Homo sapiens: one gene and its partner. The protein of the gene in region 2 purifies or fractionates together with the protein of the main gene of each other region. This does not show direct contact. Each region holds a gene or a part of one and is shown on either strand. Other genes may lie near its edges. The genes, in order: KIAA0232 and NAT8L.

Region 1 (3,600 bases), 4.7 Mb from region 2:
GATCCTGAGACCTATTTAAGAATGGTTCAATCCAAAATAACTGATGGAAGAATATTTGACCTTGAGGATGCAGAGTGATAGAATCCGCTCCTCCTCCCCCCCCGCCCTCACCCGCCTTTAAATTCTAAGTCCACGAAATGGTCAAAGTGTTCTGGAACGGGTCTTATTTTGCATAGGAAGAATCTAGCTTGGGCATTTTACCGCACAGTTTTATCCACAGCATCGCCTATTACCAAAACTGCTTGTCCCTACCCCCTCACGAGCTTTCTAACAGTTTTTAAAACAAGACCCAGAAATGTAAAATCCCTTCTTAGGAACTTGAACAGTAAGTCAAAGTATCCAACCCAGGTAATTATTAGCAAGAACTACATTTATATAATTTTTTCCAAAGAATCTCGCATGCCTCCTCTCCGCTGAATCTCCCTCCTGTTTTTAACTGGGTTAAATCTTTATAGCTTGCCTATAGAGGACAAAAACGGAAAGGTGGCAAAAAAGAAATCAAGACAGTTCTGCCATGATTTAGGGGTCTGTACCAAGAGTTCGGCAGGTCCTGTCACCTGCGCACCACAAGACGCAAGCTGAATTCTAGGGCAAGACGAAGCATTCCAACACGACACACACTGGTTTCTCCAGCGGGAAGAAGCAGAGAGCTCTAGAAATGCCGGCTGCAGACGCGTATTGTTGGAAAGGAGCCGGATCAGGCCCCGCAGCAACTCGGGGCGCCCTCGCGACAGGGTTTGCCGCGCAGCGCACGGATGACTGTGGGCCTGTCACTCCTAGCTCCAGCTGTAACCTTCGCCAAACCTTGCGCCGCACCGGCCCCGCCCGCCAGGCCCGCCCCCCGCGCCGCGCCCCGCGCCATAGGCCGGCGCGCCAGTCGCTCAGCCGGCCTCCCGGCCCCGCCCGCCTGCGGCCCTCCTCCCCCGCCCGGCGGTTTTCCCTTCCCGGGGCCCCAAAAGGACAATGCTGGAGGGGAGGGGAACGGAGGGAACGCGAGCGAGCGGCCCAGGCTGCCGGCCTGACCCCGCTGCCGGGGACGCCGGGCGCCTCCCACCGGCCGAAGCCTTCCTCCCGCGCCCACTTTCGGGGCTCTACGTCCTATCAAGTCTAAGCACCCCCGCCTCGTCTCCCCTAGAAGAGCCGCCCCGGCGCGGCGACACCTGCCCCAGGCAGGAGGCAGCCAACGGCAACCCATTGTGCGGACTCATCGTCCACAGCCCACCCGGGCGCAAGAGCCGCAAGCTGGTGTCCCGGCGTCCTGGGGTCGGGGCGGGGGTCCCAGGGCCCACAGCTCACCCGCACGCCCGGGCACCACCAGGATCGGGGCCGGTCAGGCCTCCCTCGGCTGGCCCCGGAGCCATCAACAGCGGCCCGGTCTCCCTTAGGCTGGCCCCGGAGCCATCAGCGGCGGCCCGGCCTCCCTCAGGCTGGCCCCGGAGCCCCCGGCGGCGGCCCGGTCTCCCTCAGGCTGGCCCCGGAGCCCTCGGCGGCGGCTCGGCCTCCCTTAGGCTGGCCCCAGAGCCCACGGCGGCGGCCCTGTCTCCCTTGGGCTGACCCCGAAGCCTTCGGCTGCGGCCCGGCCTCCCTCGGGCTGGCCCCGGAGCCCCACGGCGGCGAGCGTCCGGCCTCCCCGGCCCGCGCCCACCCGGCCGAGGGGCTGCTCCGCGCCCTCCCTCCCCGCCGCCTGCCCGCAGTACCTGCCGAGGCTGCCGGGCGGCGCGGCGGCCGGCGGGGGCGCCTCTCCTCTGGCTCCGAGGGGCTGCGGGCGGCTGCCGAGCGCCGGGCGGCCCTGGCCTGCGCCTTACGTAAAGCGGCGGCGGCGGCCCCAGCGCCACTCCGCGGAGGGCGGGAGGCGGCGCGCCGGGAGCCGCTCCGCTCCGTTACCCGGCAACTGGCCTCAGCGCCCCGCCAACCAGGGGCGCGCTCCATATCCTTCCGCCCGGGTGCCGGGATTACATCAGCGCCGGCCGGTCCCCGCCCCTGCCCCTCCCTCCGGCTGGGCTGCGGGCGCGCGCGGGCGGTGGGCCGCGGGCTGACGGCGCGAGGGGACAGGCCGGGGCTGGTGCCTGGCGGGTGGGGGTCTAGGGCCCGGGACGCGCCGTGCAGCTTGGCCGGGGCGGCGGAAGCCGCTGGGAGGTGAGAGGGCAAGCAGTAGAGAGGGCAGGCAGGAAGCGGGAGCCCCCCAGCGTGCTGGGCGTCGGAGAGGAGACGTCTCCCGCGGAGGGGCACGTGGGACTGCCCTCGGCAGAAGCCCCCGAACTCTGCCGCCGCGCCCCGCCCCCGGCCCGCGCTGGGGAAGTGGGGCTCGGCGTGCACGGCCCCGCCCGCGGCCCGGTGCAGCCCCCGCCTTCCCGGGCTCGCGCGCCACCTGTCCGCGCCCCCTCCTCGCCGCGTCCTGGGATGGCTGGAGTAGGCGGCTTAAAATAAAGACTTTAATTTTTTGTTGTTGTTGTTAAGGAACCCAGAAGACAAGCTAAAGAAATGTGACATGGCTCTTTTTTTATTAACTAGGCAAAAATAAATTCTGGAAGCTTCGAAAGTGGAAACCAAAAATGTGCATTAACCTTTTAATCAAAGTGTCTTCACAGCCACCTACCTTCCCTAAATGTGACTCCTAGGCCTGTTCTAAAAAAGCAAATAAGTATCATGGACCTGGAAAAGGAAGGGAGATTACTTAGAAGAAAGAGGTCCAATGGGAGGAGTGACTTACCTGGGGTCATTTGTTCATTTATGCAGCACCCACTAGGTGCCAGGCACTATGCTTTTCTGTTCAGAACCTGTTGGAGAATTTCCTGCACCAGCTCACGGGCTTGTGGGAGAAGCAGATGCTGAAACACTGGAGAGGGGTCATCTGCTGAGTTGGCTAGATGCTCCATGCATCCATGGAAGGACAAACCGAGGAACTGTCGCTTACGTACTATCTACAGAGTGTTTTTTCTGCGAACATATCTTTTTGTTCTTTACAAAAATCGTGGGACAAATCTTTGTCATCCGCATTTAACTGGTGAGGAAGCTGAGGCTGAAAGAAAGTGATTTCACCCAAGCCTGGCTGCTACCGAGTGGACAGGGCCTTCTGACCTTGCTAAACCACCTCTTGCAGGAGACAGAATGTGAACCCAGGCTCCTGGCTCTGAAATATGGGGTTTCGTTTCCTTTACACTACTGTCTCCCTTAACCAGTTTGCTTCTAATTGTATTCTCTGAGCATTCGCTCAGGTGAATGTATATCGTCATAAATCACACGTTCATTCAGTCAGTTTCTTCTGAGTGCTTGTTGTGGACCTGGCTCAGTGCCGGGAACGCACAGTCCCTGTGCTCCTGGAACTCAAACTCTAAAAACAGTGTCGAGAATGGAAAGGGTATGGGAAATCCAGGGCCACTTGGGAGTAGAGGAGGGGAGAGTAGCAGAGCTTCAGAGCCTAGTTCACAGGTGCCTCCAGGCTCCAGGATTTCACAGACCAAAGTATGGGGGATTTGCAAAGGATGGTCAGCTTTTGATTTTTGCTACATTGGTGACATATCTGTCATCTACATCATATTTTACAAAAGAGTATTAACAGCAAAATTTTTTGAAAAGTAATAACAGTATATCTCAGTTCTG
Region 2 (4,100 bases):
GGGAGCGGCGGGAGCGGGACTCACCGGGCGGCTTCATGTAGTACTGCTCGATGTCCGCCATGTCCGTGTGCAGCGCGCACTCCAGGTAGGCGCGGATCACCTTGCGGCTGTAGTAGTAGCGCAGGCCCAGCAGCGCGGCCGGCACCAGGCACGTCAGCAGCAGCGAGCGGCTCACGGCGAAGCACAGCGCTGGGGGCAGAGGGCGCGGGTCAGCGGCGCGGCGGGGGTCCCCAGGCCCCAGAGACGCCACCCCGGCGAAGCCCGCTAGGGACGCCGCGCCCGGCCGCGCTCCTGGTGGAGGAGCCGGGGTCATCTCGGGTGCTTTCTACTTCTCCCTATTTCCAAGCTTCCTGCGGTGAAGACAGCCACCCCACCCACCCCCACCGCCTGGAATGAGCCTCGGCGGGTCTCTGAGCTTCCAAACACGGCAGGACACCCTCGGGATGGCCGGGCCGGGAAGGACTCTGCCCACGCTGGCCTACTGAAGCCAAGGTGGGCAGATCCTGGCAGGGAGCTGCCCCGCAGACCAGGCCCCGCGCGGGGGAGGGGGGAGGGGGGAGGAGGAAGGGGGGTGTCCCACGTTCCAGCCTCGGGCTCCAGGACCCCCTCTTCCCAGGGCCCCAGCAAGAGCCCTTCCTGGCCAGCGTCCGGGAGCTCTGAGGGCAGGGACAGGGCAGGGAGGCCCCACACCGCTTCCAGCCGCATTTCGGCTGCCGTGACCTTGGGGGAGTCGCGTCCTCCCTACGCGGCCTCAAGCGCCTCATCTGTAAAATGGGAGCGAACCCCCTCACCCCGGCAGGAAGCTCTGAGGGGAAGGGCACCCAAAGACGCTGAAGGGGCCGCCCTCTGCGACCGCCCCGGCTGTGCCAGGCGCGCGCACCCCCCGCGGCGCCGGCTGTCTTCCCCTCATAAATTAGCACCGAGCGGGAGGCGGCCTCCCCCGCCCGCAGATTATATTTAGGCACTCGCCGGGGCCCAGCCGCGGCGGGCGCTACCTGCCCTGGCACCCGCCCCCACCCAGGATGCCCGGGAGGGGACAGGGGAGGCGGTGGGGGTGGGGGGCTGCGCGGCGGGGACGCAGGTGCGGACCCCGGACCCTCCCCGGCTCCGGCCCGCTCGGGGCCCTGCGCCCATCCCCACGCCCATAGCCAGCCCTGCGCGGGGCCCGGCGCGGCAGAAAGCGGGGGGCTTCCCAGGCTGGTCCCCGGGAGCCGGGCGCGGGGTCCGCGTGGACGCCGGGGCGGGGGAGCTCCGCGCCGGCCCGAGGGACTGCGGCAGCCGGGGGCCCGGCGCACTGACCCGCCAGCAGGGCGTAGAGCAGCTGCGCGCGCGGGTGCTGCCGCAGGCCGCGGAAGGCCGTGTTAGGGATGCGCTCCATGATGCCGTCGTAGAAGATGCGGCGCGCCGCCTCCTGCTCGGCCGCACGGAACTCGCGGATGCACACGCCGCGCCCCCCCGGCGGCCCCGCGCCCCCCGCCCCGCCGTGAGGCTGAGCCACCGGGGCAGGTGGGGGCGCGGGGGGCGCGGCGGCCGGCCCGGGCGCGGCGGGCAGCGGGGGCCACATGGCGCCGGCGGCGGCGAGCAGCGCGTCCTTCTTGGCCCCCGGCAGCGCCTCATGGTCCTCGGCGGCCACGATCTTCGTCTCGCAGACCATGTCGGGAGGCCCACAATGCATGCACCCGGCCGGGCGGCGCGGCAGCGGGGACGCGGCCGGGCGGCGGCGGGCACGGCCGGGCCCAGGGCAAGGGCGCGGCGCCCTCGGACCCGCGGCGGCGGCGGCGGCGGCGGCAGCGGCGGCGGCGGCGGCGGCAGCTCAGGGGCGCGGGGCGGAGGCGGCGGGCGGCCGGGGCGCGCGCAGGGAGCTGCGCCGCATTTTGGAGAAGTATTTATAATGCGGCGGCGCCGGTGCAGTCGCGGCGCCCGCGGCCCGCAGGGTCCTAGCGTCCACTGCATTGGCTGCCGGGGGTCACCATGTGATCGCGGGGGTGGGGGAGACGCCGCCCCCGCCTCGCCGGGTGGCTCGCTGGGCGCGACGGGGCGGCCGGGCAGCGCGAGGGGCCCGGCACGGGCGGGGGCGGCGGCGCGGGCGGGGGCTCCTGGCCCGGGGGCGTCCGGCGGGGCTCGGGACCCGGCCGCGGAGCGCGTGATGGGCGCCGCCCGCCCCGCCCCCCGCTCCCACGCCGCGCGCCTGGGAGCGCCCCGACCCCGGGCCCGACCGCTGGCGATCGCGGCGCCACGTCCTCCTCCTCCTCCTCCGCGGCCGCCCGGAGCAGTCACGGCAGCGTCTCCCGCTCCGTCTCCTGCCTTTGTTTGAAAGCAGCGCCCGCGGTGGACCTGGGGAGAGGGCGCCGCGGCTGCCCCGGCCCGGAGCCCCCGGGAAGCCTCGTCCGGAGCCGCACGGGCAGCCGGAGTGGGGACGCGGAAGGGCGGGGTCTGCGGCCTGGCGCGGCGCCCCCCTGTCCGAGCCCCGCAGTGGGCACGGGGATGCGGGGCCCGCAGGACCCCTCCCGGCCCGGCCCCCGCCCCCCGCGGCCGCGCATGCGCCCCGTGGCCTCGGTGCAGGTGCAGCGGGGGCTCTGCGCCTTGTAGGACCTGCAGACGCCGCAGGCTGGGGCGGAGAAGCTCAGGTGCGGGGAGGCGGTCGCAGACCCCATCCTCGGCGCTTCTCGAACCTAGCCCCCTTCAGTTCTGCGCGACCTCCCAGCACCACCCCGAGGGCTGCCGGAGCAGAGCTTCCCCGACATGCGCGGGCGGGACGGGGCCAGGGGTCCAGGCCTGGGGACCCGCAGTCTGCGTTGTGCGGTGGAGTTGGGGCCAGCCGGGCAGCTGAGGTCACCTGAAGGCCAGGAGGGGCTGGGCCTGCCCGTGGACGTGGGAGTGAGGCCGCAGCGCCCTGGTGGGGTGGGGAGGGGCGGCTGAACTGGTCCACAGCCCCGTCCGCCAGAGAACGGGCCCTGGAGAGGGGCAGGGGACGGGGTGGGGGCGTGGGGGGGAGGGGAAGCCAAGCTGGGAAGGCGCCCCCTCAGTGTCTGGGGCCCGCTGTCAGCTTTTCAACCTAAAGGAGAAAACAGGCAAAACGAATAGAAATAGTTTGTTGGGGCCAAGTTTGAGGACTGCAGCGTGGAAGGACAGACTCAGGTTGGTCTGAATGCACGCGCTCTCATTCGCAGCAGTTGCAAGTGCGTTTTTAAAGGAAAAATGAAGACGCAGCTCCTAAATTCACCAAGAATTTGCATTAAAATGGCATAAGCTATTGATTGGTGTACATTATTTGTCACAAATTCCAGGAACATGAAGATGACGCTGAGGCGGCCAGGCGGACACTATAGGAAAGAAAAGAAAGAACAAAATGCCTTCCAGCAGTTGCCCCGGGCGTGAGTGGGGAGGCGGGACTGAGGCCCTGTACTCAGGTGTCTCTGGGCCAGATAATCTTTGAGAATCCCACATAGCTCCGGCTATTTTTCTTTTCTCATTTCTCGTGTTTGATCAAAAATTTTCTCTTCTCAAAGCAGTGATGATCGACATTCTAGATGTAAGTTTTTCTGCTGGGAAGGCTCATTCCCGGGCCATCTCACCCCGCATGGGGGGAAAGAGGACAGGTGCGGTGGGCGCTTAAGAACTTCGTGAGGCCTCAAGGCCAAGGTTGATTGGCACGGGGTCTGTCAGGCCGTCTGCTATGAAGGAGCCACGCATACCGGATGGCTTCTGAGCATCTAGCTAGCATCCTCGGGGTTTTTTGGTTGACTTTGGACATCTAGAAACACAAAGCCTAATCAATTTAAGAATGAAAAATATGGGCCGGGCGTGGTGGCTCATGCCTGTAATCCCAGCACTTTGGGAGGCCGAGGCGTGTGGATCACGTGAGGTCAGGAGTTTGAGACCAGTCTGGGCAACATGGTGAAACTGCGCCTCTACTAAAAATACAAAAATTAGCCGGGTGTGGTGGCAGGCGCCTGTAATCCCAGCTACTTGGGAGGCTGAAGCAGGAGAATCACTTGAACTCGGGAGGCGGAGGTTGCAGTGAGCTGAGATCGTGCCACTGTACTCCAGCCTGGCAACAGACTGAGATTCTGCCTCAAAAACAAGAAAAGAAAAAGAAA

Evidence for each region.
Region 1: the proteins of NAT8L (region 2) and KIAA0232 purify together in Homo sapiens (affinity purification with mass spectrometry; 3 studies listed by BioGRID and IntAct, with this or other methods). This does not show direct contact.

Annotation. Positions count from the first base shown.
Region 1 is NC_000004.12:6,780,939-6,784,538, reverse strand, and holds the start of KIAA0232 (uncharacterized protein KIAA0232), read right to left. Parts: upstream 1,813-3,600; 5' UTR 1,698-1,812; intron 764-1,697; exon of another isoform or gene 1-763.
Region 2 is NC_000004.12:2,057,087-2,061,186, reverse strand, and holds the start of NAT8L (N-acetylaspartate synthetase), read right to left. Parts: upstream 1,861-4,100; 5' UTR 1,676-1,860; coding exon 1,300-1,675; intron 190-1,299; coding exon 25-189; intron 1-24. UniProt on the Homo sapiens protein: Catalyzes the synthesis of N-acetylaspartate acid (NAA) from L-aspartate and acetyl-CoA. Promotes dopamine uptake by regulating TNF-alpha expression. Attenuates methamphetamine-induced inhibition of dopamine uptake.